Linked DNA regions of Homo sapiens: region 1 is linked to region 2. Evidence: fine-mapped expression QTL. A gene starts in region 2. The other region holds a variant in brackets. All regions are shown on one strand. Distances are between the middles of the regions.

Region 1 (2,905 bases), 270 kb after region 2:
AAAAATCTGGAAAATATTAAAATAATCCAAAGAAGGAAGGAAAAGAGGAGTGAAGAAACAAAAATTAGTAAAAATTAGTACAAACAAAAAACAAAATGACAGACTGAATTGCAACTACATCCATAATTACATTAAATGTTAATGAACTGAACATTTCAATTAAAAGACAAAGACTGTCATAAAAGAGCAAGAACCAAATATATGCTGTTTGTAAGAAGTCCACTATAAATATACAAACACAGATAGTTTGAAAGTACATAAATAGAAAAATGTAAATATGAAAAGGCTAGAATGGCAATAATTATCAGATATAATATACTTTAAAAAACAGTATTAAAGGAGGGACATTTCATAATGATAAAAACACCAATTCATCAGGAAGACCCAACAATCATGACTGTGAGTGTCTTAAATATATGAAACAAAAAAAAGGTGACAGAAATAAAGAAGACAATTATATTAACAGTTGCTTTTAGCACACCTCAATCAGCAAGATAAACAAATGGAAAGTTAAACAAATAAAGTAATAGATGATCTCTATATTCATGTAACTGATATTATAGAACAATATCAGTCTGAAGTACTGAAGTGTGTCTCTATTATCAGAGTATATATATATATATATACATTTTGATATGTACTTTGTGTGTATAGACATATATATACACTCTGTGTGTGTGTGTGTGTGTGTGTGTGTGTGTGTGTGTGTATCCACCCACATGAGAGCTCCTTATTGTTACTTTGCTGATTTATTTCCTCATTTTTGTCATTCTGGCCCATCTTAGACTGAAAATGTTACGTGCAAATTAACTACTGGTTTGCTTTTGTCTGTTTCTTCTTATATCTCCTACAATTTCTGCTTTACGAAGATTCCTATCATTTTATTTGGTACACGGATATAACTTTTTTTTATTATGAAAGGTAGCCCACAGCATTGTAGAGTGACTTTCTTTGTTCTGTTTAATAATCTGTGGCATAATTCTGTCTTGTTATACAGTATATAATAATCCCTGCTTAGTTTGTATTTTTTGCCATATGGCAACTTTGCTTTACTTTTTAAAAAATTGTTTTGATTTCATATTTGTTTTGTATATAGGAATGTTTACATTTTTATAAACTCAAGTATGTATAATTAATGTAATTCTCTTGAGCTCCTTTTTCTTTATTTCTATTGTCTTCTTTTTAC[A/G]TATCACTTTACTGAGGTATTATTGACACAAAAAAAGCTGTACATATTTAATGTATACAACTTGATTAATTTGGAGGGAAGTAGACACCACTGAAGCTATTACTGAGAGGTGAAGCCAGCTGGGTTTCTGGGTTGGGTGGGGACTTGGAGAACTTTTCTGTCTAGCTAAAGAATTGTAAATGCACCAATCAGCACTCTGTGTCTAGCTAACAGGTAGGGGGCTTGGAGAACTTTTCTGTCTAGCTAAAGGATTGTAAATGCACCAATCAGCACTTTGTGTCTAGCTAAAGGTTTGTAAATGCACCAGTCATCACTCTGTCAAAATGGACCAATCAGCTCTCTGTAAAATGGACCAATCAGCACTCTGTAAAATGGACCAATCAGCAGGATGTGGGTGGGCCCAGATAAGGGAATAAAAGCAGGCCACCTGAGCCAGCAGTGGCAACCCGCTCGGGTCCCCTTCCATGCTGTGGAAGCTTTGTTCTTTCGCTCTTCACAATAAATCTTGCTGCTGCTCACTCTTTGGGTCCATGCTGCCTTTATGAGCTGTAACACTCACCGTGAAGGTCTGCAGCTTCACTCCTGAAGTCAGTGAGACCATGAACCCACTGGGAGGAAGAAACACCTCCAGATGTGCCACCTTTAAGAGCTGTAGCACTCACTGCGAAGGTCTGCGGCTTCACTCCTGAAGTCAGCGAGACCATGAACCCACCAGAAGAAGAAAGTCTGGACATGTCTGAACATCAGAAGGAACAAACTCTGGACACACCATCTTTAAGAACTGTAACACTCACCGCAAGGGTCCACAGCTTCATTCTTGAAGTCACCGAGACCAAGAACCCACCAATTCCAGACACATTTTGGCGACCCAGATGGGACCATCGCCTATCGCCAAGAAGTGAGACTATCGCCTATTGCCAAGTGGTGAGTACCATCGGACCCCTTTCGCTTGCTATTCTTTCCTATTTTTCCTTAGAATTCGGGGTCTAAATACCAGGCACCTGTCGGCCAGTTAAAAGCTACTAGCGCAGCTGCCAGACTAAAGACACAGGTGTCAGGCTTTCTGGGAAAGGCCTTTCTAACAATCCCTGACTCTTCAGAGTTGGTAGCGTTGGTTTGCCTGGAACCAGCTTCCGCTTTTCCTGTACTTCTGGACTGAGCCCAGGGTCGACAGAGAGGAAAGCCATTCAGCTCCGGGGTCCCAACAACAAGTTGGTTGACCCTGTGGCCATGAGTGGAACTCTCAAAGTCATGTCGCCCAAGCGAGACTTGCCCATCTATTCTATCTACCCTGACCATTGCCCCCTGGGTCCTAACGCCTGCCAGACAAACTTCCCCTTGCCTCTCTTCTCCAGGCTAGTCCTGCTTCTAAAAACCACTCCCTGTCTCTGGTGCTTTTCTAGTTTCTCCTATAAGAATGATTTCTAGTATAAATTTGGGATTCTGTTACCTTCTGTAGGCACCCAGGCTCACCAATCAGAAAGACGTAATTTTTGCCCAAAGCCCCATCGTAGGGGGGACTATCTGGAATTTTAGGATCCCTCCTCAGACTAGCAGGCCTAACAAAAGCTATTCCTGAAGCTAGAATATGGGGAGCCTCAGAAATTGTATCCTTCCTATTCATATAAGTAAGGACAAAAGGTGTCACTCTTCCAACCCTGGACATCCCTTCCCTCCCTCAGGGTATGGCCCTCCACTTCATTTGGGGGGCATAACATC
Region 2 (2,905 bases):
TGGGGGAGTGGGGGAGATTAGAAACAAGGGGTAGAAATTCCTCGAAAGGGAATAAAGTGCCTAATTTTCAGGAGGAGGTGCCATTTAAAAGATTCGCCTAGCTTAGAGTTGGAACGAAAACTCTTTTTTGCACTTTTAAAAGTCCACCCAGGTAGACGTGTTTGGGAAGTTTTTTCGGGTGGGAAATGGGCTTCGCCCGTACGAACAATCCGGGGAAATCGCCTCAAGGAGGATCCTTACGCAGCATGTGGAAAAAAGTTGAGGGCAGGGGTCTGTGGCCACATTTTCCATCAAAAAGTCCCTGTTAGAGGCAGTCTAAGAAAGAGAGAGAAAGAGCGAAAAAGAAACTTTCCTATCAAAATGTTTCAATTAAGAAGTAGGGTGTACGTGTGAGGGGAAGAGGACGCTGGGCTCCAACGTTTCAGTAGAAGCGCTTAAGACTTGCAAACACCCTTGGTGGGGACCTGGAACCCCGGGAGATGCCGACGAGCAAGCAGGTAAGTGGCGGCGCCCTCCCAGTGGGTGCTCTTCCCAGGCGCGAGAGTCCGGAGGGGCCGAGGAGAGATCTGCACGCCCGGAGCTGCTCCCGCGCTCTGCAAAGTAGCCTGCGCCGGCACGAGCAGCCCGCGGCGTCGGTCTCAGGTGGCGGCGCCGGGGAAGAAAACGCTGGGGCCCGCGGCGCCGGGAGAGGGGCCGAGGCCCGGGCTCCTCCAGCCCGCCGCCCCCGGGTCCTGGCGCCCACACCCGAGCGGCTGAGCCCTGTAGCGCGCGGGAGAGCGAAGGAACCGGTTCTCCAGCACCTCGCCTCCTCCCTGCCACTCCCTCCGGAGCGCCGAGAGCGCGAGAAGGGCGGGGGCGCCCAGGGCAGGCCTGGAGACCCACGGCCCCCTCCGCGGCCAGGACTCGGGCTCTCCGCTCGCCTTCCTCGCCTAGCTCTGCGCCGCTTTTGCCAGCCGAGTCCCGGAGTTAGCGCGCGACCGGGGCGGGGCGGGAGGGCGGGGAGGGCGGGGTGTGGGGGGCGGGGGAGGGCGGGGGCGCGCGGAGGTAACCCCCGGCTCGCGCAGCCATTGCCCGGCTCCCTGTCACTCAGCCCGCGCGGGGCCCCCGATTGGCGGCCTAGCCCCGTTACGCACTCGCCTCGCGTTCACATACCCGGGGAGGGCAGTAGAAAGGTGATCAATCTTCATCAGGCTACATTTCCAATCACCTAAACAACCGAGCAAGACAAGCCACTCCGACAAGGTAAATCGCTTGATTTATTTAGTTTGCAAAGTGACTCTGCAGGACTTCCCAGTCCCCACTGCCTCCACGTTGCACCGGGAGTGCCGCGGCAACGCCGAGCCACCTCCCAACTCTGCCCCTCGAATTCCCCCCCTTGCGGCCCCTCGGCGCGATCCCAGGCGAGGCAATGTCCTGAGAACGTGTGGGGCTTAGCAAACAAAGTGTCTGTGCAATAAAGTGAAACCCAGAAGGACACGCACAAAGCCATTGAAAAAAAAGATAGAGGTGGGAAGAAGGAAGTTGGGAAAAGAAAGAAACCTGGGGGTCCTAGACCAGCCGCCAGGGTAATTCCAGTGCTGCTCTGTTTTGCAGGTTGGCTGCCCGGCGGGTCTCTGTGAGAGATCCAGGTAGATGGTGAACGGCCCCGGCAGCTGAGGGCAGGTAAGGAGAAAGCCGCGGGGCCACCCCGGACTCCGGGAGCGCGTTGGTTACCCTTATCTCCCCCTCCTCAAATGGATCCCGGCTTCCCCGGTCCCCAGCAGGTGGTCGGGGCTGTGGGAGCGGCCTGGCTCCCCTCTTGGTGAGCCGAGGACCCCGGGGCGCTGTCGCGGCCCGCAGCCCCCTCCCCCGCCTCCTCCGAAGTAACCAAGCTGAAGTGCTAAGTTTGGAGAAAGTCTTTGAAAACTCACGCTGCAGCTTCGCAAAGCCGTCGCAGCTTTGAGTCCCATTTTCCTTCGGCCCTAGAGCCCTGGCTGCTTCCCTTCCGGTCCCCTTCCTACAAGCTGGACTCCCTCAGCCCAGGTCTTGGGTCCCAGAAGACGGGGGCGGGAACGGGGCTGGGGGGAGCTTCTTTAGCTCTAACTTCTCTCCTTGAACGTCCTAGCCCGAGTCCCTGGCTTGCTTCACAGCGATCCCGCTAAGCGGGGTGTAGCGATGGCCCCCCAGGGCCCCAGGCCCAGTTTCCAGCGCCCCTCCCTGACCCCTGAGAGTGGCACCCCGGGTTCCCGGCAGCGGCGGGGGCGAGGCTTCGACCTCCCAGCTCGGGTCTGCGTGGGCTACGCCGCTGAGGCCTAGTTCTCTGTTCTCGACCGTGTCCTGGGGCCGCGGGTTCAGCTACAAGGATGGCAGCACGCGACTTGCTGCCCTCCGGCTTCACAAATCCCCGAGACCCTTTGAGGTGCTAGGCCAGTCACCCTTCACCCCCTGCTGGGACCCTGCGGTCCGCAGCCCAGACTGGGCAGAGAGAAGGCCGGGTGCGCGCTGGCAACGAAGGACGCTGGCCGCAGCTGAGGCGCTCCCGACCTCAGGCCGCATCTTGGGGTCGCCCCCCTCTACAGTGGCCCCTTCGGCGTCCTCTGGCCCTCTGCGAAGCCTGGGCCCGTTACTGCGGTTGAGGTGCGGTGGGATTTCGCGTCAGCGATCTTTCAGTGGCTGGGCACAGAGAGGTCAGCTGGAGTGGTGATTGCGGGATCTGGGGCAGGGGCGCAGCCCTGGAGACCTTTAAAGGAACCAAGTGTCTAAGTGGACAAGAAGTGCAATTAGCCCTCCACATTGGCCCTTTGTAGTCTCTACCTTTTCAAAAACACGTGAAACAAAATGAAACAACGCCTCATGCTCTGGGCGGCCTGCCGTCCGGGCACCAAGTGAACCTTTGCTTGTGCAACATGAAGCTGGCTTCTGCCGG

Evidence for each region. PIP is the estimated chance that this variant, and not a neighbour inherited with it, causes the effect. A credible set is the group of variants that fine-mapping cannot tell apart.
Region 1: its variant is the best candidate, but not a certain one, in a credible set for the expression of OTX1 in whole blood (TOPMed, PIP 0.50).

Annotation. Positions count from the first base shown.
Region 1 is chr2:63,320,717-63,323,621 of GRCh38, forward strand. The region is part of intron 12 of WDPCP (WD repeat containing planar cell polarity effector); the gene reads right to left. Among named protein-coding and RNA genes, the nearest start is that of WDPCP, 270 kb to the right of the region's middle. RefSeq lists an enhancer at 2,797-2,905. The variant A/G (reference allele first, on the strand shown) is at 1,187.
Region 2 is chr2:63,049,656-63,052,560 of GRCh38, forward strand. OTX1 (orthodenticle homeobox 1) reads left to right here and starts at 1,175. Exons shown (of 5, transcript NM_014562.4): 1 at 1,175-1,242; 2 at 1,594-1,662. RefSeq lists enhancers at 1-313, 1-424 and a silencer at 541-1,200.